Linked DNA regions of Homo sapiens. The protein of the gene in region 1 interacts with the protein of each later gene in a pairwise test. Each region holds a gene or a part of one and is shown on either strand. Other genes may lie near its edges.

What was found.
Region 2: the proteins of TMEM254 (region 1) and SAR1A interact in binary tests that used the Homo sapiens proteins (3 or more experiments, as listed by UniProt).
Region 3: the proteins of TMEM254 (region 1) and FKBP8 interact in binary tests that used the Homo sapiens proteins (3 or more experiments, as listed by UniProt).
Region 4: the proteins of TMEM254 (region 1) and TMEM79 interact in binary tests that used the Homo sapiens proteins (3 or more experiments, as listed by UniProt).

The regions. Positions count from the first base shown.
Region 1 is NC_000010.11:80,088,637-80,093,093, forward strand, and holds the end of TMEM254 (transmembrane protein 254), read left to right. Parts: intron 1-1,743; coding exon of another isoform or gene 1,744-1,776; exon of another isoform or gene 1,777-1,795; intron 1,796-2,160; coding exon 2,161-2,281; 3' UTR 2,282-3,915; downstream 3,916-4,457.
Region 2 is NC_000010.11:70,167,515-70,175,363, reverse strand, and holds the start of SAR1A (small COPII coat GTPase SAR1A), read left to right. Parts: upstream 1-4,849; 5' UTR 4,850-4,951; intron 4,952-7,849. UniProt on the Homo sapiens protein: Small GTPase that cycles between an active GTP-bound and an inactive GDP-bound state and mainly functions in vesicle-mediated endoplasmic reticulum (ER) to Golgi transport.
Region 3 is NC_000019.10:18,533,529-18,540,598, forward strand, and holds part of FKBP8 (peptidyl-prolyl cis-trans isomerase FKBP8), read right to left. Parts: intron 6,193-7,070; coding exon 6,023-6,192; intron 5,932-6,022; coding exon 5,843-5,931; intron 4,909-5,842; coding exon 4,688-4,908; intron 4,246-4,687; coding exon 4,073-4,245; intron 1-4,072. UniProt on the Homo sapiens protein: Constitutively inactive PPiase, which becomes active when bound to calmodulin and calcium. Seems to act as a chaperone for BCL2, targets it to the mitochondria and modulates its phosphorylation state.
Region 4 is NC_000001.11:156,287,325-156,292,943, reverse strand, and holds the end of TMEM79 (transmembrane protein 79), read right to left. Parts: intron 1,560-5,619; coding exon 1,346-1,559; 3' UTR 501-1,345; downstream 1-500.

The DNA.
Region 1 (4,457 bases):
AAAAAAAGATGGAGGGTCTCCAGGAGGCTGAGGCAGGAGAATGGCATGAACCCGGGAGGCCCCGGAGCTTGCAGTTAGCTGAGATCATGCCACTGCACTCCAGCCTGGGCGACAGAGCAAGACTCCGTCTCAAAAAAAAAAAAAAAAGATAGGGTATCATTATGTTGCCAAGGCTGATGTCAAACTCCTGGGCTCAAGCGATCCACCTGCGTCGGTCTCCCAAAGTGCTGGAATTACAGGCCTGAGCCACCACACCTGGCCAACTTTTGTTGTTGTTTTTGTTTTTGTTTTTTGAGATGGAGTCTAGCTCTGTCGCCCAGACTGGAGTTCAGTGGCATGATCTTGGCTCCCTTTGTTTCATTTCATTTTCTAATTGTCTGATGGTACTTTGTATGAATATAGTCAATTTTTTATATTGACCTTATACCCAGCAATCTTGCTAAATAAATTTATTAATTGTAACAGTTTATAGATTATTTTCAGTTTTTAGGTATAAAACTGTCCAGAAATACAGTTTTATTTCTTTCTTTCAATTCTGTATACCTTTTATTTATGTTTCTTCCCTTATTCTACTAGCTAGAACTTCCAGCAGTGCTGACTAGAAGTGTGCCTTGTTCTTGACCTCAAAGGAGAACTTTCAACATTTTGCATCATGTTTATTATAGAGTTTTGTAGATCTCCTGTGTCAAAATTAGGAAGTTCCATTGTATTTCTAACTTTGCTGAGAAGTTTTATTAAAAATGGATGTTGGATGTGGATGCAGGTGGCTCACACCTGTAATCCCAGCACTTCGGGAGGCTGAGGTGGGAGAATCAGTTGAAGCCAGGAGTTCAAGACCAGCCTGGGCAACAAAGCAAGACACTGTCTCTACAAAAAACAAACAAAAAACCTAGCCAGGCATGGTGGTGCGTGCCTGTGATGATCCCAGCTACTTGGGAAGCTAAGGTGGGAGGATAGCTTTAGCCCAGGAGTTTGAGGCTGCAGTGAGCTATAATTGTACCAGTACACTCCACTGTAGGTGACAGAGTGAGACCCCATCTCTGGGGGGGTTGGAAAAAGAATGGATGTTGAAATTTGTCAAATGCAGCCGGGCGTGGTGGCTCACGCCTGTAATACCAGCACTTTGGGAGGCCGAGGTGGGTGGATCACGAGGTCAAGAGATCGAGACCATCCTGGCTAACACAGTGAAACCCCATCTCTACTAAAGAAATACAAAAAATTAGCCAGGCGTGGTGGCGGGCTCCTGTAATCCCAGCTACTCGGGAGGCTGAGGCAGGAGAATGGCATCAACCCGGGAGGCAGAGCTTGCAGTGAGTCAAGATCGCGCCACTGCACTCCAGCCTGGGTGACAGAGCGAGACTCCATCTCAAAAAAAAAAAAAAAAAGAAATTTGTCAAATGCCACTTCTGCATTTATTAAGATATTCATATGATCTTTCTGTTTTAATCTGTTACTGTAGAAAATTATATTGCTTTTACATATATTGTTTTTAAAGTTTGTTTTAAATAAAAGTCATCCAAGTGAGACTTATTTATGTACAGATGAGACTGTAGCAAGCCATTCCCTTCCATTGGGTCATCTTTTTTTTGCACTTCATTTTAGGCAGTTGAATTTGAATGACAATATAAGCAGGTGTTTATCATGACTGTGTGCCAGGCTCCTTCCTGAGCATGTTGTGTGTATTATCCCATAAATCATCTCAACTGACTCAGTGAGATAGCTACTGCTGTTCCTGTTTTTCAGATGAGAAAACTGATTCTGAGAGATTCTGAGTGATTTGCCCAGGTCACAGCTGGTAGGTAGCCACGCTAGGATTTATATCTGGTCTATTTGCAAAACATTTGCTCTGAAACCATACCAGTGCTTTTTACTCCATCCGCTCATCAGAATCACATGAGAAACAGTCTTATAATACTGTGCCCTAGACAGTAGCCAGACTAGTTCTCAGGGAATAGTTTACCATCCAAAATACATTTGTTAGAAAACAAGAAAGATGAAAAATAAATGAACCATCCAAGATAAGCCAGAGAAAAGCAGCAAAATAAACCCAATGAAAGTAGTGGAAGGTATAATTTAAAAAATATATATATAGAAGACAATAACTCCCATGAAACTGTAAGATTAACATCTCGTGTTTAAATTTTGTTTTTTCTGTTTTAGGCATAAAGGCATCACAAGTGGTCGGGCTCAGCTACTCTGGTTCCTACAGACTTTCTTCTTTGGGATAGCGTCTCTCACCATCTTGATTGCTTACAAACGGAAGCGCCAAAAACAAACTTGAAGTTGTCTGAAAGCTTGCTCTACACTTTTACATTCATCCTCACCCTTTTTTTTGTGGGGTAGAGGAGGTGCAGTAATTTACTCAGTGATCTTTCTACTTTCTAGAAACTGTCCTTCAAAGCTCTTTAAGACCCCCTCGTTAGTCAGTTTTTTCTCTTATATGCTCTGGTTGAGCTTGAATAGACCAGTTGTTACTTAAGAAAGAAACAGAGAAAGATTTTAGCTTTTCAATCCTATTTGGCAGAGGACTTCAGCTACCTTCTTACAGTCTTTGGCTGTGTTGGTACCCTCGTGTGCTCTGAGCTAAGCCACATACTAAACTGACTTTTTGGTTTGTATACCCTTGCTCCCGCCTTCTGATGAAAACACCTTACCCTCACAACCACCATCTTTCCTCTCCTTTCCAAAGCTCTTTCCACCTTGCTGCACTAAGATAAAGTGACACTTCCACTATATGTCAATTCCACACACATTTATTAGGTACCTGTGAGGTAGGATCCTATCCTCTCAAACTTCCATTTCTCATGCTACAGAGAAAGATAAGGAAGATGAGCAAGTGCCTGGAATGGGGCAGGCTGAGCAGTCACACAGGCATAGAGGCACGCTGAGAACCTGGAGGGGAGACTGCAGAGTGCCTTCCCTGATGCTGCAGCCGGAAGTGATCCTTCCCTCCACCTGGCCCCTGGGACACTGTGCTCTGCAGTGTGCAGGGCCTGATGGCACTGCTAGATTGCTCCTTCAGCTCAGGGCCACAGCTTAAACAGCTTTACCTTTCCCCTCAGCACCTGTCCCACTATCTTGCACACAGGTGCTCTAACCATGTTTATTGAACAAAGGAGGGAAACTGATTTCACTTTCACTTGTTCATTATCATTCCAATTTTTATGTGAAAATGGCACAACCCATTTGGGGTACCCTCACCCCAAAATAAAAGCCCAAGTCTACCTTTGACTGGTACCACCTTTTTTGTGGTTTCGTTGGTGAGAAACCTTTATCTTTTTCATACCTTTCTATTCTCAATCACTTCTCCAAAAGTGTGTCTTTCCAGCTCTGATTTATTCAAAACACAAGCATTTCTGTTTAGAGATTCTAGCCCATGGGTTATCTGGCTAGTTATTACCTCTCCTGTTCACTTAGTTATACTTTATTATTGCTCACAGGCTGGGGAGGCAGAATGACTCTGTCACCACTAGGAGCCATTAGGGCTTCTTCCCTGGAGGACTGCCTGCTTGCTTTCTGGGGACACTAGCCCTCATTTCCCTTCTGTGGTACAGTGGGGCAAATTATTTGTATTAAGCAAACATTTATGGGAAACAACCCGCTCCCGAAAACGGAGCCCCCAAGTAAAGCACAACCCTGAAAGATTATGAACTATGAATTGTCTCTGGTAGAGATAAATTTCTGCAAACATATCTCAGTCTTCCCTCTGTTTCTCTGGTGATTAAGAAGTTCCTTTTTGGTAAGGAAAAGGATTTTTAACCATAGAGTTAGGCATCATGGAAATTCAAACCAGATTTCTTAATACCTGGTCTTCCTCAAAGAGAAATAATAACAGTAATAGTGGTGCTGGGAACAATATGGCAGATTATTGAATGAAATTGATTAACTTGAATAAAATGCTGTGAATTTTCTCTAGCTGAATGCTTTTCTTGTATTTGTCAGTTTTAACATATTGATGCACATTTGATACTTTTTCTCAAATAGACTACTAGGGAACTGTTTATACACTTCAGATATCAGTTTGTTTTTCACTGATAAAGAAATGCAAAACACTGTGGTTGTCGGGTATATACGTACTATATTTTAGAACTGTCCATGTCCCACTTACCTCCTCCACATACAAGGAATCACTAGGGTGGACCTGAGTGTCTCCTTTTCATTGTAGGATTGTCTCCTTTTTGTTTCTGTTTTTATTCAACATTTGATAAAGTCTATGCACTAAGTAAGGAGTGTTCTGGCATTTTTTTAAATGCATGAAGTCCGGTATGCATCACTTAACAATGGGGATGCCTTCTGAGAAATGCACTATTAGGTGAGTGCATTGTTGTGCAGATATCATAGGGTGTACTCACAAACCAAATGGTAGAGCCGACTACACACCTAGTTTATATGATACAGTCTGTTGCCCCTAGGCTACAAACCTGTACAGCATGTAGAGTAGTACTGAATACTGAAGG
Region 2 (7,849 bases), 9.9 Mb from region 1:
AAACAAAAACAAAAACCAGAGCTAGCTGGGCATAGTGGCTCACGCCCATAATCTCAACATTTGGGGAGGCCCAGGCAAGACGATCATTTGAGCCCCAGGAGTTTGAGTCCAGCCTGGGAAACATAGCAAGAATTTGCCTCTAAAAAATAAGAAAGATTTTTTATCAAGCAGGATAAAAAAAGGAAAAATAAAGAGTAATATGAAGAACAAGTGACAGCAACTCCTGGACAAACCAAAGCTGGTATTGGCTGCATCCTTGCAGGCAGTGCGTATTCCCCACCTCCACTGCATCAAGCCCAAGAAAAAGGCTGAAGGGGATGCTAAGGAAGTTAAAGCCAAGGTGAAGGACAAACCACGGAGAAGATCTGCAAAGTTATCACTAAAACTGCTCCTCCACACCAGAGCCAAAGCCTAAAAAGCCTCTGCAAAGAAGGGAGAAAGAGGTACTCAAAGAGAAAAGGGGGAAAGCAGATGCTGGCAAGGGTGGGAATAACCCTGTCTATCTAATGCTGAGAATATGTAAAGGAGTAAGCATACAGTCGGGGGAAGAATTACATAAGATGCCTCCCCTCAAACCCTCCATTGGTTCTTCAGGTCACCAAAAATAAAAGCTAAAGTCCTCACCTACAAGGCTTTCAAGATTTGCCTCCTGTTAAGAGACAATTCTCCATGAAGCTCTTTGATTTTTGCACTTCTTTCAAACAGAGGTGCCAGCTGCCTTTGTTTGGACTATCTTTTGAAGGACATTTATATAATGAACAGCCTTGGAAGACAGTGTCCCTCTGGTGCAGGGGACAGGTCTGTATACTGCCCAGTGTCATACCATTTCCCACTGGGTCAGAGTTCAGGCAGGTCCGCTTGCAGCCATTATGAAAGATTTGGGTTCCCTAAGTTCTGGGTTCCTCAGCTGTGTTGCACACCATCGAATGGGCAGTGTCCATTCAGACTGCTCTGTGTCACCCCATTGTCCTCAGAAAGGAGGAGGGAGGAAGGGGCAAGTGGAAGTAACACAAACAGGAAGTTCATGCTGCTCGCTATGCCGGAAGTAATAACATAGTTTGTCTCTGATCCAGGAGTCCTGTGACTGCCAGCATCTGAGACTGTGTCAGGCTAACCTGTTAACCTGCAAGTTAGGTAGAACCCCAGAACCTCCACAGTTCTGACCACAAACACCTCACCCCATTTCCTACCACTCCTTCTGTTGCTCACCTTGCCTGGTCACACTGGCCTCCCAGATGTTCCTGGAAACTGCCAGGCACACTCCTGCCTTAGGGCCTCTGCTGTCAGCCTGGAACAGTCTACCCTGACAGCCATGTAATGTCCTTCATGTTCTTATCCAAATAGCACCTGGGTGGGGCCTTTCTTGACTTCTGTATTTGATTTAGTTAATTAATTAATTAATTTAGAGACAAGGTCTCGCTCTGTTGCCTAGGCTGGAGTGCAATCATGGCTCACTGTACCCTCAACCTCCTGGGCTCAAGCGACCCTCCTGCCTCGGTCTCCCAGTGTTGGGATTACAGGCATAAGCCACCATGCCCAGTCTGACTTCTCTATCTGAAACAGCCTTCCCACCAATAAACTGGTGAACTTTTGCCAATCTGACAGGTGAAAATGGTATCTCAGTAAGTTTCAAATTTATCTTTTATTTTTTAAAATCTATTTCTATTTCAGTATAGATATAACTATACAGAGATACATAGACAAATAAATGGATTTATATATTTTCTATATCTATTATTCTATAATATCTATATTTATATTTTCTATAGTATCTATATTTCTATTACTATTTTATTATGCTTGAGTCATTTTTGGGCCAGGCGCAGTGGCTCATGCCTGTAATCCCAGCACTTTGGGAGGCCTAGGCGGGCGGATCACTGGAGGTTAGGAGTTTGAGACCAGCCTGGCCAACAAGGTGAGACCTCATCTCTACTAAAAATACAAAGACCATGTCTACTAAAAATACAAAGATTAGCCGGGCTCGGTGGCTCATGCCTGTAATCCCAACTATGCAGGAGGCTGAGGCAGGAGAATCGCTTGAATCCTGGAGGCAGAGGTTGCAGTGAGCCGAGACCGCCACTGTACTCCAGCCTGGGTGACAGAGTGAGACTAGGTCTCAGAAAAAAAAAAAAAAAAGAAAAGTCATTTTTATTTCCTTTCCTATGAATTATCTGTTCTGAACTGTTGCCTATTTTCCTATTGTGTTGTTAGTCTTTTTCATACTTCTTACTTGCCTATGATGTGATTATTTTTCTCAACTTGTCATTTGTCTGAGTTTGCTTATGGTGTCATGATTGTTGTTATGCCATATAAGTTTTTAATTTTTATGTAGTTAAATTTGTCAATCTTTTCTTTTATGGCATCTACATTTTCTTTTCTTTCTTTTTTTTTTTTTTTTTTGAGATGGAGTCTCAGTCTGTTGCCCGGGGTTGGAGTGCAGTGGTGTGATCTCGGCTCACTGCAACCTCTGCCGCAGGGGTTCAAGCGATTCGCCTGCCTCAGCCTCCCAAGTAGCTGGGATTACAGGCGCCTGCCACTACGCCTGGCTAATTTTTTGTATTTGTAGTAGAGATGGGGTTTTACCATGTTGGCCAGGCTGGTCTCGAACTCCTGACCTTGTGATTCGCCAGTCTCAGCCTCCCAAAGCGCTGGGATTACAGGCATGAGTCACCACGCCCGGTCTAGATTTTCAATCATACCCAGAAAGGTCTTCTCATTGCAAAATTATAAGGAATCCATGCTTTCTTCTGTTTTTCTAGTACCTTTATAGTGTCATTTCAAAATACACACATCTTTTCATCACTTGAAACTTGTTTAGAGTAATAAACTTTTGGAGATTCAACCTGTAGGTTTTTTTGACTACCCAATTGTCTCAACCCCTTTTATTATTTATTAATTTATTTAACAACACATAACAGAATCATTTATTGAAAACAGTACTCTGGAAAAACTATGTGCACAACAATGCCTGTTTCACCCATTTTACAGTGGGTACATGGTGGTCTGGGGCATTCGTCAACTTGCTCAAGCCTTTAGGTAAGTAGAGTTTGCGGCTTTTCTGAGAATCTGCCTGCATGTTCCCTCCTTCCCCAGCCTCCCAAGCCATCCTGTGGTTCAGACACCTCCACCTCGTGCAGCCAGGCTCTCAACAAAGCCAGTAATCCAATGTGTTGGCTTGCACTGGGCTTGCATCTGTGTCTCCAGGATGCACAAGGGGTTCCAAGCCCCATGGACACATTGTCCCTGGTTTAGCTAAAGCTGGTGAGAAGCCTCAGAAGTGGCCTGACACCTTTCTGTGACAGGACAGGGTTCAAATTCAACATCTAAGACCCCAGGATGAGCGGAGGGTAGAGGGTGGTGAGCTTGCCCACTCAGCTCCCTGAGTATTGCTGGAGTCCCAGGTGCTACTTTAGTTTTATTTCTGCATGTACTTTAGTCATTTCTGTACTTTGCTCTGTTCCATTGTGTTTTTTGTGTGTGTGTGTTTGTGCATGTGCACGCACACCAGTTTTAATAACTTAGGCTCTATAATATGTTTTAATATCCAACAGGGTTAGTTCCCACCTCCTTGTTCTTCATTTTGAAAGCCTGTTTCTGGACTAGTTTTGTTTGGTTTTCTATACGAATTTTAGGAACAAATAGGGTAATTAAAAAAAAAGAACGAAACCACACACGACCTATTAATCCTATTAGTACTTTTATTGGGATTATGTTAAATTTAAATTTTACTAAAGGAGAATTGAGATCTTCATGAACCCACAGACGTCATTCATCTTTCCATTAGACTGTTTTATTTGTAAAATGAGAGTAATAATAGTACCAATCTCGTGGGACTGTCCTGAGAATTAAATGAGAAAATGCATGCGAAATATACTGGGGTGAACACGTTGCTTTGCCACTTAGCTGTGTGAACTTGGGCATGGTAGGTTATTCTGAACATTGCTCTCTCATTTGTCAATAAGGATAATACTAGCATCTGGAGTCACAGGACTCCAATGACGGTGAAATTAGACAAAGCGTGCAAAGTACCCAGTGCTCTGCCTGGAACATAAGTGCACAATAAATATTAGCTGTTTTTCTGTTTTTCTAAAACATAGGCCACCCCAGGGCAAGGAAGTGCGACTCAAAGCAAAAGCAGCTGGGCGCGGTGGCTCACGCCTCTCATCCCAGCATTTTGGAAGGCCGAGGCCAGCGGATCACTTGAGGTCAGAAGTTCGAGACCAGCCTGGCCAACACGGTGAAACCTGTCTCTGTAAAAATACAAAAAAATTAGCCAGGTGTGGTGACATGCGCCTGTAGTTCCAGCTACTCGGGAGGCCGAGGTATGAGAATCGCTTGAATCCGGGAGGTGGAGGTTGCAGTGAGCCGAGATCGCGCCACTGCACTCCAGCCTGGGCGACAAAGTGAGACTCCGCCTCAAAAAAAAAAAAAAAAAAAAAAAAAGCAAGGAAGAAAAAAAGCAAAAGCTTGGAGGGATCCACCTCAAGTGGAGGGCCCCAAGGTCAACTCATCTTTCCCAGGACCTATGTCACCGTCGGTACCCACTTCTGACTTTCCTGGTGCGTCTGGAATGGGAAGCCGCGATCCCGAGTGTACCAGGCCGCTCAGGGACTCCAGGACCCAGCCCCGGACCCAGGGTTCCGGCGCTGCCACGTCTCGCGCGGTCAGCTAGCCAGACGGGAGCAGGCGGGGCCGAGGCGGGGCCAGACCCCGAGCGCGCTTTGTCACGCCTTATGCCCGCCCCTCCGCGGCCCGAGTCGCTGGTGGGACGGCACCGGGGCAGAGAGGCGTAACGCTGTGAGGGGGCGGGGCCCATTACGCGCCCGGAAGTCCCGGGGAGGGGTGTGACGTACATCCGGCGAGTAGCTGGCGGTCCCGGGTGCTGCTGGTTAGTGTGCTCTGAGGGAGGGTCCGAGCCAGCCGCTGTTTTGCCGGAGGAGCCCCTCAGGCCGTGAGTCTGAGGGTCGCGTCGGGGAGGGGAGTTGGGGCTCGAGGGGCTGGGACGGAAGGCGGGGAGGTCGGAGCGGAGGCTGGCCCTGGCGGGGTTGGGTGGGGGGGAAGTGACACGCAGGCGGTTCTGTGGGGCCGCGGGGCTGATTCTGGGCGGGGACGGGACAACTTGGCCAGATCTGCTCCGTCCCCTGCTGTCCTCTTTGCCTGGGGTCCACTTGCATTCCGCTCGGGGGTCTCGCAGCTGCTGGGCCGGATAACAGTTTCTTGTCTGTACCGTGCGCTCCGGTTTACGAAATGGCTCCATGTCCTCTGTCTCGGAAGAGCCTCACAGCCCTCGGTGAGGCGGGTGGGAGCCCTTTATGATTATCCTTGTTTTGTAGACTCGGAGACTGAGGCTGGCCAAGGCTCCGCAGTTAGCGAGTGTGAGCGCTCGAACCTGGTCTACAGGCCCCTAGTCCAGGGCTTACCCCCAAGTCAGCGCTTGGTTGTCTTCCGATGGCCCGGGTCGAACCCTGTATTTTCTCCTTCTCCCTTCCCCTTTTCCCCTGTCTGGTCTCTGCATGGAAAAATTTCCTTATGTGCATTTGACATGGATTAGCGTTTTCTTCACGATTCTAGCCAGTGGGTCAGGAGCATCTTTGTCTTGTTGATTCCATCGGCTTCGGTTGCGACAGGGGGCTTAGGGAGATTCGCCATGGGGCTGACCTTTGACATTTACCCCGCAGCTAAGCAGAGTTAGCTAAAAGCCAGCCGCCTACTACCCCAAATCTGCCTGGAATGGCGTCTTAAAGTTGCCCTGATTATGTATAACAAGTAATGCGTAAATTTTTAAATTGGCTAATGGTCAGATTGGTGCCCTCCTTTTCTATTAACATTTGTTTGAATCATTTAGCCCTGGAATTCGCAAGTTTTCATTTTAGGTACATTAATAGTGTTTTGTTGATAGTTTAGAGACCTACCTTAAATTTTAGATTACTCTTAACTTCTCGTAAGGTGGTACAATGGACCAAGAATAGAAAATAAATAGAATGCTAGTTATTAAAATACCATTCAAAAGATGTGATGAGTTGTAAGGAAGAGAACTTCGGAAGATCATCCTCTGTGTAGTTGGTGGGTTAAAGAAGTTTTAGTTTTTTTTTTTTTCCCCAGCAATTTTGTGGTTTGGGTTTGAATTTTATGTACTGTTAACAGGAAGAGCTTAGGCTTTGGTGTTAGAGATGAGGGTTTAAGCCCTGGCACTATTACTTTTTCAACTGAGCCGTCTTAAAGGACTCAGCAAAACTAGGAGTATCCTCATCTTTATCTTGTTAAATGAGGCCAGTGATCCTTGCCTGGTAGGGTTGGTGTGGGGATGAAATGAGATGTACAAGTACTGTGCAGATTGTAAAACTACTGATGAGTTGGTACAAATCCTAAGATCTTAAGGAGAGAGGAGCCACCAAGGCCATTTTCAGCTGCTGAGGAGGCTGAGGTGGGAGGATCTCTTGAGCCTGGGAGGTTGAGGCTGCAGTGAGCCATGATGGCAACACTGCACTTCAGCCTTGGAGACAGAGTCTTGGTCTGTCTTAAGAAAAGGGGGGCGGGGGCATTTTCTTAACTTTGGGTAGCAGTGCAACCCGACTCTTTGGATCTAGTAAGGGTTTTTATTATTTTTAGCTCACCTGAAGAGTTTCTTCAGTCAGCCTCCACTCTCATCACTCCTTTACAACCCAACACTTCTATATACATTTGTACTACACTGGTTTTCAGTCAATACTTTACAGACTTGTAAAAAATGTTTACATCACTTTAGAAATTTTTCTTTCTTTCTTTTTTTTGAGATGGAGTTTTTGCTCTTGTTGTCCAGACTGGAGTGCAATGTCATGACCTCGGCTCACTACAACCTCTGCCTCCCGGGTTCAAGTGATTCTCCTGCCTCAACCTCCCGAGTAGCTGGGATAACAGGCGCCCACCATGCCTAGCTAATTTTTGTATTTTAAGTAGAGATGGGGTTTCACCATGTTGGCCAGGCTGATCTCGAACTCCTGACCTCAGGTCATCCACTTGCCTCGGCCTCCCAAAGTGCTGGGATTACAGGCATGAGCCAAGTATTTTCAACTAGATGAATTCTGCAAAGGTGAAAAGGAGAAAATGCCACACTTTAAATAGTTTTTCATGGCAATTGAACTACTTTAATTTTCCATTTTATTTTCCTTTGACACTCCTGCTTTTAAGCCATCTCCTCCCTTGGAGCATACAAATCAGCAGCAGCCGGGATTTAGCTACTTGGATGCTTTAATTCTTCCCTCCAAAATGATCTGAGTGGGAATGACCTTAATGAGGGGTGTGCTCTAAAGGTGAGCTGTGCTTCTCCAGGCAGTAGATTGAGAAAAGTATAGGAGGATGTTTGGTTTGAGGGAGTTGCAGAGGAAGGGCACATTGTTCTTTTACTTATTTACAGTAAATGGGAATTTCAGCACAGGAGCTTTATTAAGTATATTTAAGTTGTTGGACTCCTTAAAGTGCGGACTCAATTTCCAGAGAAAACTATTAGTTAATGTGATAAATGCAGTCTTTCTGCTGAAATATATTTGTTATTGAAAAGGCAAAAAAGAAATCACCTCATTTAGTATTTTTTCGTAAGAGCCTAGTATGTATCCACCCAAACTGCCAAACTTTATTTGGCTGTCTTTGGTAAGGGCCGTGAAAAATAAATATTAATTAGGCCCTAAAATTTACAGATTAGGCCATGGGCCTGATAAAAACCCAGTAATTGGATGAAAAACATACCAGCTCTACTTTTCAATTTACTCTTTTTTTTTTTTTTTTGAGATGGAGTCCTGCTCTGTCACCCAGGCTGAAGTGCAGTGGAGCGATCTCCGCTCACTGCAACCTCTGCCTTCTAGGTTCAAGCGTT
Region 3 (7,070 bases), on another chromosome or scaffold:
CCCCGTCTCTACCAAAAAATACAAAAATTAGCCAGGCGTGGTGGCATGCACCTGTAGTCCTAGCTACTCAGGAGGCTGAGGTGGGAGGATTGCTTGAACCAGGGGGCAGAAGTTGCAGTGAGCCGAGATCACACCACTGCACCCCAGTCTGGGTGACAGAGTGCAACCCTGTCTTAAAAAAAGAAAAAAAAAAAAGGGTCGGGCGCAGTGGCTCATGCCTGTAATCCCAGCACTTTGGGAGGCCGAGGCGGGCGGATCACAAGGTCAGGAGATCAAGACCATCCTGGCTAAGACGGTGAAACCCTGTATCTACTAAAAATACAAAAAAAATTAGCTGGGCGAGGTGGCGGGCGCCTGATAGTCCCAGCTACTCGGGAGGCTGAGGCAGGAGAATGGCGTGAACCCGGGAGGCGGAGCTTGCAGTGAGCCGAGATCGTGCCACTGCACTCCAGCCTGGGCGACAGAGTGAGACTCCATCTCAAAAAAAAAAAAAAAGGCTGGGCGCGGTGGCTCACACCTGTAATCCCAGCACTTTGGGAGGTCAAGGCAGGCGGATCAAGAGGTCAGGACGTCAAGACCATCCTGGCTAACATGGTGAAACTCCGTCTCTACTAAAAAATACAAAAAAATTAGCCGGGCATGGTGGCGGGCGCCTGTAGTCCCAGCTACTCGGGAGGCTGAGGCAGGAGAATGGCGTGAACCCAGGAGGCAGCACTTGCAGTGAGCCGAGATCACGCCACTGCAGTCCAGCCTGGGCGACAGAGCGAGACTCCGTCTCAAAAACAAACAAACAAACAAAAAAAACAGCCAGGCTCCTGGCTACTCATACAAGTGCCAAATGGAGCTCTGGCAACATCCCTGGGTTCCAGCCACTCCCAAACTGCTCTCCTAGCCCTCAAACTCCATCAGTGCACACTTAGCTTGGCATTGGTCCCCGCAACATGCTCCTCCTTCCTGTCTCAGCTGCAGATCTAGGCACCCACCTCGCTGCCTCCTCCCTCACCACCTCCACTGGCGAGAGGCCGAATGGATGCTTCCAGAGGTTGTTGTTTTTTTTTTCTCTTTCCTTTAGAGACAGGGTCTTGATCGGTCACCCAGGCTGGAGTGCAATGGCATGATCATAGCTCACTGCAGCCTCAAACTCCTAGGCTCACACAATCCTCCAGCCTCAGCCTCCCGAGGAGCTGGGACTACAGGCGTGTACTACCATGTCCAACGAATTATTTATTTATGTATTTATTTATAAAATTATTATTACTATTGTTATTATTATTATTTTGAGATGGAGTCTCACTCTCGCCCAGGCTGGAGTGCAGTGGCACGATCTTGGCTCAATGCAAGCTCTGCCTCCCGGGTTCACGCCATTCTCCTGCCTCAGCCTCCCGAGTAACTGGGATTACAGGCACCTACCACCACCGGCTAATTTTTGTATTTTTAGTAGAGACAGGGTTTTACCATGTTGGCCAGGCTGGTCTCAAACTCCTGACCTCAAGTGATCCACCTGCCTCAGCCTCCCAAAGTGCTGGTATTACAGGCATGAGCCACCGCTCCAGGCCTACTTATTTATTTATTTTATTTTAGAGACAGGGCCATGTTCCCCAGGATGGTTTCGAACTCCTGGGCTCAACCAATCCACCTGCCTCGGTCTCCCAAAGTGCTGGGATTATAGGCGTGAGCCACCACGCCCAGCCCTTAATTATTTTTTAAATTTTTGTAGCAATGGGGTCTCACTATGCTGCCAAGACTGGTCTTGAATTCCTGGGCTCAAATGATCCTCCTACCTTGGCCTCCTGAAGTGCTGAGATTACAGGCGTGAGGCACCACACCTGGCCCTGATGTTTCCAAAGCTTTGGCCATAGTGAATGATTCAGGACCAGGCACATGACCCAAATGAGTCAATGAGATCCAGCCTGCACTATGCTGGTGCTGATGGGAGATGGGTTGCTAAGGGGAGAAGATGGAGCTGGGCGAAGTGGCTCACGCCTATAATCCCAGCACTTTGGGAGGTCAAGGCAGGTGGATCACTTGAGGTCAGGAGTTCAAGACCAGCCTGGCCAACATGGTGAAACCCCGTCTATACTAAAAATACAAAAAAAGGCTGGATGTGCTCGCTTGAACCCAGGAGGCAGAGGTTGCAGTGAGCCAAGATCGTGCCACTGCACTCCAGCCTGGGTGACAGAGCAAGACTCTGTCTCAAAAAAAAAAAAAAAAGGAGGGGGTAGAAGATGGAAATCTGTAACTTTCCAGGGGGGAGGGGGGAGCATCATGGTCACCCTGAGAGAGGAGCCGGCCCAGGAGGGAAGGTCAGAGCAGAGAAACAGCATCCCCACAATATTGTGAGTGCCTGGATCCAGCTATGCCTGAAGCCAGCTAATCCAAACTTGGCAGTTCCATGAGCTATCGATCCCTCCTTTCTGCTTGAACCTGTTTGAGTGGGTTTCTATCACCTTCAACCAGCAGGTCCAAACTTGTATGAAGCTACACAAGCAGCCACTCCTGCTGCCCCCAGGAGGATACTACCCCCAGGTTGAGAACAAAGCCTTCAAAAACAGGAACTGCATCTTCTCCCTCTTCATATTTCTCTGCAGAACTCCGCACACAGTATGTCCTTAATAAATCCCAGCTGGAGGGAGCCCCACCTCAGGCTTTTCAGAAACACAGCAGGTGAGCCAGTATCTGTGCCTCAGTTTCCTTCGTTAACTGCTAAAAGGTCCTGAAAGCCCCACCTAGGGGTGAGGCTGTGAGGATGAACAGAAAAGGGGGTGAGAATGAAGGTCAAGTCTGTGCAAGCCAGATTCACCCCTATGTTCTGCCAGAACTTTTTTTTCTGTTCTCGTGTTTTGTTTTTGACACAGGGTCTTGCTCTGCTGCCAAGGCTGGAGTGCAGTGGTGTGATCAAGGCTCACTGCAGCCTTGACCTTCGGGGCTCAAGCCATCCTCAGCCTCCTGAGCAACTGGGACGACAGGCCCGCGCCCCCACACCCAGCTAATTTTTGTATATTTTGGGTAGAGAAGGGGGTCTCCCTATGTTGCCTGGGCTCGTCGCAAATGTCTGGGCTCATGCGATCCTCCTGCCTTGGCCTCCTGTAATCCCAAGTGCTGGGATTACAGGAATGAGCCATTGTGCCTGGCCTCTGCCAGGACTTTTACTGAGCACCTACTATGTACCTGGCCCTGTTTGCAAGGCTGGAGATCCGGCAGTGAGCAAGACAGACCAAATCTCCACCTTTGAGTAAGGTAGATGGACAAGAGGCATGTCACCTCCACGTGCTGCCTGTCAGGAACATCTCAGACAGTCGGCAATGCCTACGCAAAGGCCCTGAGGTGGAGAGAGCCTGGCTAGACAGCAGAAAGGGAGAATGCCACGTGGGATGGAGAGAAGCAGAAAGTGAGGTGGGAGAAGTGATAGCAGGAGGGGGAAGACCAGACAACTCAAGGCCCCAAGGGCTGTGACTAGGATTCCACTTTACTCTGAGGAAAACTGGGACCCATGGAGGTTCTATGGGAGGAGGTTTCAACACTGGGCCAAGCCGGGCACGGTGGCTCAGGCCTGTAATCTCAGCACATGGGGAGACTGAGGCGGGCAGATCACTTGAGGTCAGGAGTTCGAGACCAGCCTGGCCAATATGGCTAACCACATCTCTACTAAAAATACAAAAATTAACTGGGTGTGGTGGCTCGCACCTGTAGTCCCAGCTACTTGGGAGGTTGAGGCAGGACAATCGCTTGAACCCAGGAGGAGGAGGTTGCGGTGGTGAGCTGAGATCACACCACTGCACTCCAGCCTGGGTGACAGAGTGAGACTCTGTCTCAAGAAACAAACAAACAAACAAACAAAAAACACTGGGCCAAAGGTTGGGGACCCAAGACTCGAGGATCAAATTCTGGCCTCAGCCAATGAATTGTTGTGACCAGGCCACACTCCTGCACCCGTCTGGGCCTCAGTTTCTCCACCTGCACCCCACAGAGCTCAGCTGGCTTATATACCTATGCCTTTCTCAAATGCAGGGTTGGGGACCACCCCGTATACCCCAGGCTGAGTGACCCGGCCTGGCACCCCGGTGTGGCCTACCTTGCCCTTGCGGAAGAGAGCCTTGATGTTGTCTGGCTGGTGCTCCAGCACAAGGCTGCAGGAGCGCAGGGCTGCGCGGTAGTGGTCGAGCTTCAGCTGCGAGGCCGCCAGGTTGTTCAGACACTTCACCTTCAACTGCAGGAGCTGTGCCTCCTCCTCGAACGTCATGTCCACTATTGGGAGACAGTGCCCGCCACGGCAGCCGTCACCATGCCACCAGACACCCCGGCACCCACCCCTCTGCGGAGGCTGCCTCTCTGGCCTCAGTTTCCCCAATTTTAACCCCGGACCAAGGGCCACGCTTTCCTGGGGCTCTCCTGAGGAAGCTACAAGATGGAGACTTAAGCAAGCGAGGGCCTAGCCTGTGGTACATGTGAACTGGCCCTGTCTATGGTCACCCCATCCCCATATCCACTTGCATTCTACAACACTCCACTGGTCTGGGATATACCACGAGTCTGTAACAGGCCCTAGCTTAGGGGCAGTTGGGGATCTACCCATATTCTGGGCTATTCTAGAATATTCTGAGTCTGAGGCTCTCTGGGGCTGGAAGTTTCTGGCACGGAGTGGACACCTTTGCAGGGGAGATGGTGGAGATCTGACCCAGGCGGTCACCTTTGGCGCTGGAGGTGATAGCCTTGATGGCGAGGTCGTAGGAGTTGGCGGCCAGGACGAAGTCCGCCCGCTGGTAGTGGGCGTTGCCGCACTCCCGCTTCCGGTTGGCCAGGGCCACGCGCTCCTGCCCCGTGAGCATCTCCAGGTCAGGCCCGTCCACAGCCGTCTTCAGGGTCACCTCCAGGCACAGGGCCGCGTGCGGGGGGATGTATGGGCTCCTGCTAGTTGGGTGGGAGCAGGCAGGGGCAGCACTCAGACCTGGTGACCCCTAAACCCGCTGGGCTGGCTAGGAAGGAGTGAGCTTGGCTCAAGCCCCCGATCTGTCTCCCCTCTGCCCTCCATCATTCCCTCCTCAGTAAAGTGCAGGGGAAGTGACTTGCCGCCTTGGAGCTGCGGGACTTGACGAACGAGTTCCCCTCCCTAAGCCTCGGTTTTCCTCCTTTTTATTAAGAGACAGGTTCTCACTCTGTTGCCCGGGCTGGAGTGCAGTGGTGCAATCTTGGCTCACTGCAGCCTCAAAAACGTGGGCTCAAGTGATCCTCCTGCCTGAGCCTCCTCAGTAGCTGGGACTACAGGTGTGCACCACACCCAGCTTTTTTTTTTTTTTTTTTTTTTTTTTGAGACAGTCTTGCTCTCTTGCCCAGGCTGGAGTGCAGTGGTGCAATCTCGGTTCACTGCAAGCTCCGCCTCCCGGGTTCACGCCATTTTCCTGCCTCAACCTCCAGAGTAGCTGGGACTACAGGCACCCACCACCACGCCTGGCTAATTTTTTGTATTTTTAGTAGAGACGGGGTTTCACCGTGCTAGCCAGGATGGCCTTGATCTCCTGACCTCATGATCCACCCGCCTTGGCCTCCCAAAGTGCTGGGATTACAGGCGTAAGCCACCACGCCCGGCCCACACCCAGCTAATTTTTAAATTTTTTTGTATAGAGATGCGGTCTATATTGCTTAGGCTGGTCTGGAACTCCAGGTCTCAAGCAATCCTCCTACCTCAACCTCCCAAAGTGCTGGGATTTCAGGTGTGAGCCACCTCACCCAGCCTCAGTTTCTTGTCTATAAAATGGGCAAGTAGATGGGGTGAGCCGAGGGGTACACCCACTCCACCCATCCCCCTCCTGAGACCTGCAGAGACCTAAGGGTGGCTGACTCTCACCTGCCTTGGGGGCCGTAGCAGTACTTGGAGTCAGCAGTGACCATGGCCGTCTCCCCCACGTCCATGAGTGGGACACTGAGATCCAGGGCCTGGGGTGTGTGGGGATAGCCAGCTGTCAGGCAGACTCAGACCCAGCAAGGCACGCCCCTCGCCCCTGCCCTGTCCCGCCCCAGCCCGCACCTGGATGACGTCACAGTCACCCAGAGTGAACACCAGCTCCGGCTCCTCCTGCACCCGTGTGCCATTCTCCAGCGACGTCTGCAGATGTACGGTGACCACCTGGCCCTTGACCGGGCGGCTCGAACCTGGCGGCCCTGGGACCAGCGTCTTCTTCCTCAACAGCCCGTTCCCTGCCAGGGTCCAGGGACATGCAGCCTGTCACCTGGCAGCTCAAACAGGCACCCGCTCCCCTGAGCCCCCACTCCTACCCTCAGCTCTGCCCACTAGCTGTCCAGAGGGGGCTGGCCCAACACTGGGGCACAAACCAAACTTCCAATGGCCACTCTGCCACCAGAGTGGGGAACCCCACGTGCAGGACACTGGGCAGGATGGGACAGACTTCAGGGTGACAGTGCTGGTGCTAGAGACCAGCTCAGTGAACAATGGTTGGTCTGGTTTTTTTGTTTTTTTGTTTTTTTTTTTTAAGAAAACTGAGACTTGCCGAGTTTCCATCTATTTGAGAGGCCAATGTGGGAGAATCACAAGTTCAGCCCAGCGTCTGGGCAAAATGGCAAGAACCCAGTCTCCCCACCCTCCTCAAAAAGAAAGAAAACCAAAGCTCAGAGAGGACAAACAGCCCTCAGGCTGAAATCCTTGCCCTGAGATGTTTGGGCCTCGGTTTACCCAGCCATGAAATGAGGTGCTCATGGGACCTTTGGTTAGCAGAGCCCCTGTGACACAGTGTCCCCACCACAGCACCAAGTGGGATGAATTTATAAGTTAAGCAAAGGACACACATGGTGGCTCATGCCTGTAATCCCAGAACTTTGGGAGGCTGAAATGAGAGGACTGTTTAAACCCAGGAGTTTGAGACCAGCCTGGGCAACATAGTGAGACCCCATCTCTACAAAAAATAAAAAATGACCAGGCATGGTGGCTCACACCTGTAACCCCAGCACTTTGGAAGGCTGAGGCAGGAGGATCACTTGAGGTTAGGAGTTTGAGACCAGCCTGGTCAACATGGTGAGACCCTGTCTCCACTAAAAATACAAAAATTAGGGGCCAGGTG
Region 4 (5,619 bases), on another chromosome or scaffold:
CCATCTTGCTTTTCTGTGGAACCTCAGAGGCCAGCCTCGACTTCCTGGAGACCCCCAGGTGGGGCTTCCTTCATACTTTGTTGGGGGACTTTGGAGGCGGGCAGGGGACAGGGCTATTGATAAGGTCCCCTTGGTGTTGCCTTCTTGCATCTCCACACATTTCCCTTGGATGGGACTTGCAGGCCTAAATGAGAGGCATTCTGACTGGTTGGCTGCCCTGGAAGGCAAGAAAATAGATTTATTTTTTTTCACAGGGCTCCAGTCTCTTGATGTGTGAGTGTTGTTGGGCTGGTCTTGGGCTGGTTCCAGGGAATGGAAGGGCTAAGAGATGGGCTTGGAAGGCAAGTTTCTGTTTGAGGCTCCATTTCCTTGCTGTGGAACCAAGGAACCTGCCAGCCCTGCTCCACCAGGTAGAGCTGGGAGGTTTCTATCGTCATCTGAATTAAACAGGGAAGGGACACTCGAGACTGGGGGACAAACAGGAAAAAAGAGCCAGCAAAGACTGGTAGTAATTTATTGTTACACACACACACACACACACACACACACACACACACACACACACACTAGGTTAACATCAACCACCGCACCATCCAGGCACTCCCCAGCCACCACGTGTGGGCACAAAGACACACACACCCCTCTTGGTAGGCAGATTTCCCTGTCTGCTCCCCTCTTCCTGTGGGAGAGGCATGCCTTCTGGGCAGTTTAAAGGTGGGAAGTTACAGGGGCCTAAAAAGGTAAAAGAGCAGCAGCTCTGCACTGGCCAGCTGTAAACAGTAAATAGGCCAGTCATGGAGGGTCCTGAATCCAGATCCTCAGGAAGGTTTTCACCAAACACCACAGTCCCATTTGATGTGATGCCCAGCCTCTATCCTTAAGGCATTTCCAGCGTCCCTGAGGCGCTCTGCTTAGACAACTGGCACAGAAGTGGTCAGGGCCTTGGCTGTGGCTCTGCCTCCTGCCTCACGGGAAGCCGGGGAGTGGAGCAGAGACCAGCATTAGGGAGCCTTGTGGCAGTGGTGAGAGGCTGCTCAGGAAGGAGCTGTGCCTCTCCCCTGGTCCTGGCCCCATGCCCTCAGCATCCTTAAGAAACACGGCTGTCCACCTTTTTCCCTGCAAGAAAACTAAGTCCATCCCTTATGACTGTCTCGGGCCCCAAAGGTGAAGGGCAGCTCCGGCAAGGGGAGAACTCCGATTGATTGGAGTCCCTGTTGGGGCAGTAGCAGGGTTCCACCCACCGCGGTCCTAGGCCTGGGGGCGAAGTCCAGGCCTGGCCACAAGGTTCAAAGATGTGTCAGACCCAAGCCGCTACCCCCTACTCCGAGGGCGAGGGCGGAGAGGCTCAGCCCCAGGGGCGGGGCCTGTAGTCGGAGGCCGAGCGGGCGTGGTCCGGGTAGTCCAGGCGGCTCTCGGTGGCAGTGAGCATGCGCTCCGGCTCCACCACGAACATGTAGTAGAGGTTCCACATCAGCATCGACAGCAGTGGCAGAAACGTCAGGCCGTAGCCGAAGCCTCGGAAGGAGCGGCCCACGGCAAAGGTCAGCCAGTAGATCAGCCTATGGGGGCAAGAAAAGGGTCAGGCTACTCTCGAGGGAAGCGCGTCAGCTGATTGGCAATAGGCTGACGGTGGGGGGAGTAGATAGGGGAGGCAGATGCAGTTGGTGGGTATGGCTGGTACTTCCAAATACAGCCAAAGTTTATGCACTTAACATGTATTAGGCACAGCGCTAATTACTATAAGTGATTGATTTGACTTCCCCACATCTTTATGAAGTTGAGTATGTTATTCCTTTCCCTCTTTTATTTACTTTTCGATTTATTTTTATTTTTTTAGAGACATGGTCTTGCTATGTTGCCAGTCTGGGCTCAAACTTCTGGCCTTGAGTGATTCTCTCACCTCAGACTCCTGAGTAGCTGGGATTACAGATGCGGGCCACCACACCTGGCTGTACAAACTTTAAAATGTTTGAGCAAATTCAATGAGTATAGTAAAATATCTTCCTCCCTTTACCGATTCCCACCCTATTCTCCCCCACCCCCACCCCAGGCATCAATATTATGGTTTCTTGTGCACTGAGTGATTTTTTAAATTATTATTATTTTTTTATTTTTGAGACAGAGTCTCTCTCTGTCACCCAGGCTGGAGTGCAGTGGTGCGATCTCAGCTCACTGCAACCTCCGCCTCCCGGGTTCAAGCAATTCTCCTGCCTCAGCCTCCTGAGTAGCTGAGACTACGGGCGCCCGCCACCATGCCTGGCTATTTTTTTGTATTTTTAGTAGAGATGGGGTTTCACCCGAGATGGTCTCAATCTCCTGACCTGATGATCCGCCTGCCTTGGCCTCCCAAAGTGCTGGGATTACAGGCGTGAGCCACCGCGCCTGGCCTATTTTTTTTTTTTTTTAAATTATAGATGGGGTCTCTGTCAGCCAGGCTGGAGTGCAGTGGCAGCCCCCAACTCCTGAGCTCAGGCAGTCCTCCCACCACAGCCTACCAAAGTGCCTTGGCCTCCCAAAGTGCTGAGATTACAGGTGTGAGCCACCATGCCCAGCAGATTTTTTTCTTTTATTTTTTTCTTAAAGACCAGTGTGCTTTTCTTGGAGAAAGAAGAAAAGAAGAAAGAAGGAAGAAGAAGAAGAAAGAAAGGAGGAAGAAGGAAGAAGAAGAGCCAGTGTGATAATACATTGAGTGATTTTTTAAAAAGTGCATATATGAGCAAAAAGTTATTTTTCCCTTTTCTGAAGTATGGCAGCATACTATATAGACTGTCTCTGCATGTTTATTTTTCCCCCATTTAATATATCCTGGAGATCATTTTATATCAATATAAAAATGGTTTTCTCATTCTTTTATAGCTGCAGTGTGTTCCATTGTATTTATCCTCTTGCAGATGAAGAAACTAAGATTCCAAGGGTTAAGTAAGACTGGTCCAAGATCACACATCTGGGAAATAGCAAAGCCATGATATGAACCCAAACCTGTTCATTACCTTCCCTTCTGCCAATTTGAGGGGCAGAGGTAAAGAGGAGAGCAAAGAAGCCACCTCTAGGAGGGCTTGAAGCCCAGAGGATGGGTCAGCCACAGATTTCGTGGAAGATATGTTCAATACACACCCCTCAATGGAGGGAGGGGAGAGCAACTTCCTCTTAATATATGAAGGATCACTTCTTAATATATGAAGGACCACTTATTACATGATTCATGTGCCTCTATTCTTTTTTACCTGTGAAAGGGAGGGAAGAGTAACTGCTGCTTCTCTTCTGCACTAGGAAGCAGCATAGTATAATGAACCAAGTACCAGATTGTTTTTTTGTTGTTCTTGTTATTTTTTGAGACAGAGTCTCGCTCTGTCGCCCAGGCTGGAGTGCAGTGGCCCAATCTCGGCTCACTGCAAGCTCCGCCTCCCAGGTTCACGCCATTCTCCTGCCTCAGCCTCCTGAGTAGCTGGGACTACAGGTACCCACCACCATGCCCGGCTAATTTTTTATTTTTATTTTTAGTAGAGACGTGGTTTCACCGTGTTAGCCAGGATGGTCTCGATCTCCTGACCTGGTGATCCACCCGCCTTGGCCTCCCAAAGTGCTGGGATTACAGGCGCCCATCACCACACCCGGCTAATTTTTTGTATTTTTATTAGAGATGGGGTTTTACCGTGTTAGCCAGGATGGTCTCGATCTCCTGACCTCATGATCCACCTGCCTTGGCCTCCCAAAGTGCTGGGATTACAGGTGTGAGCCACCACGCCTGGCACCAAGTACTAGATTGTTTTAAGTACTCTACATGAATTAACTCATTTAATCCTCATAACGACCTCATTTTACAGATGATGAAACTGAGGCACAAACTGCTTAATGAACTTGTCCATGGTAAAGAAGAAAGGACCCTGGATAAGAGAGGAAAAGGACCTGGATTCTAGTCCTGCCACTATTGCCGACTGACCTGAGCAACTCTCTTCCCCTAATCTGTTGTGATTTTCCCTTTGTAAAATGGGAAGCCTGGACCAGACAATCACTGAGTCTTCCTTTAGCTCCCTGATGATTTTTACTGCTTAAGCCAACTTCTATCTGAAACCAGTATTCCCCAGGAGTTTAAGATGGCAGGCTAAGTTACATGAGCAGGAACATATTTATTTTGGGAAAACCTATTGGGAGAAAATGCAAGGCTGCATGATGGTCAGGAGGCTGGTGGGACAACTGACTGCTGGACCACAATCAGAAGTGACAGGAAGACTAATTTTAGCTCAATAGGAAGAATATTTTATTTTAGCGAGCTACCTGGAATCCTGTATCAAAAGTAACAAGAGCAGGCCAGGTGTGGTGGCTCACGCCTGTAATCCCAGCACTTTGGGTGGCCAAGATGGGTGGATTATCTGAGGTCAGAAGTTCGAGACCAGCCTGGCCAACATGTTGAAACCCTGTCTCTACTAAAAATACAAAAAAAATTAGCTGGGCATGGTGGCTCACACCTGTAATCTCAGCTACTCGGGGGGCTGAGGCAGGAAAACTGCTTGAGCCTGGAGACAGAAGTTGTAGTGAGCCAAGATTGCGCCACTGCACTCCAGCCTGGGTAACAGAGTAAGACACCATCTCAAAAAAAAAAAAAGAAAAAAAAAGTAACAAGAGCATATGTATTAGGGAAAATGGAAAGAAAAGACCTGCATTTGGGTTAAGAAATTCAAAGGTGCCTTCTAGATTAACAGTAGTTCATGTGAAAATACCCCTAAGGATTTTTTTTTTTTTTTTTTTGAGACGGAGTCTCACTCTTTCACCCAGGCCAGACTGCAGTGGCGCTATCTCGGCTCCCGGGTTCACGCCATTCTCCTGCCTCAGCCTCCCGAGTAGTTGGGACTGTAGGCGCTCGCCACCGCACCCGGCTAATTTTTTTGTATTTTTAATAGAGACGGGGTTTCACCGTGTTAGCCAGGATGGTCTCAATCTCCTGACCTCATGATCTGCCCGCCTCCGCCTCCCAAAGTACCCCTAAGGATTTTAGGTGATGGCAAAGTCTGAATGAAAGGAGAGTAAGGGCCAGGCGCAGTGGCTCACGCCTGTAATCCCAGTACTTTGGGAGGCTGAGGCGGGCAGATCACCTGAGGTTAGGGGTTCAAGAACTGCCTGGCCAACATGGTGAAACCCTATCTCTACTAAAAATACAAAAAGTTAGCTGGGCCTGGTGGTGGGCGCCTGTAATCCCAGCTACGCGGGAGGCTGAGGCAGGAGAATCGCTTGAACCCAGTAGGTGGAGATTGTAGTGAGCTGAGATCCTGCCATTGTACTCTCCAGCCTGGGCAACAAGAGTGAAACACTGTCTCAAAAAAAAAAAAAAAAAAAAAAAAAGTGGAGAGTAAGAAGGCTGCGAGGAGAGCTCACACATCCTTGGTTTGTATGAAGAAAAGGACAGTACCCTCTACCAGGGCCATCCCCTCATTGACAAACAGGAAGAGAAGGACAGTACCCTCAACCAGGCCCCCCAACCTTGAGACCTCATCTCTATATTTTTTTAATTTTAATTATTTATTTATTTGTTTGAGACGGAGTCTCACTCTGTCACCCAGGCTGGAGTGCAATGGCGCGATCTTGGCTCACTGCAACCTCCGCCTCCCAGGTTCAAGCGATTCT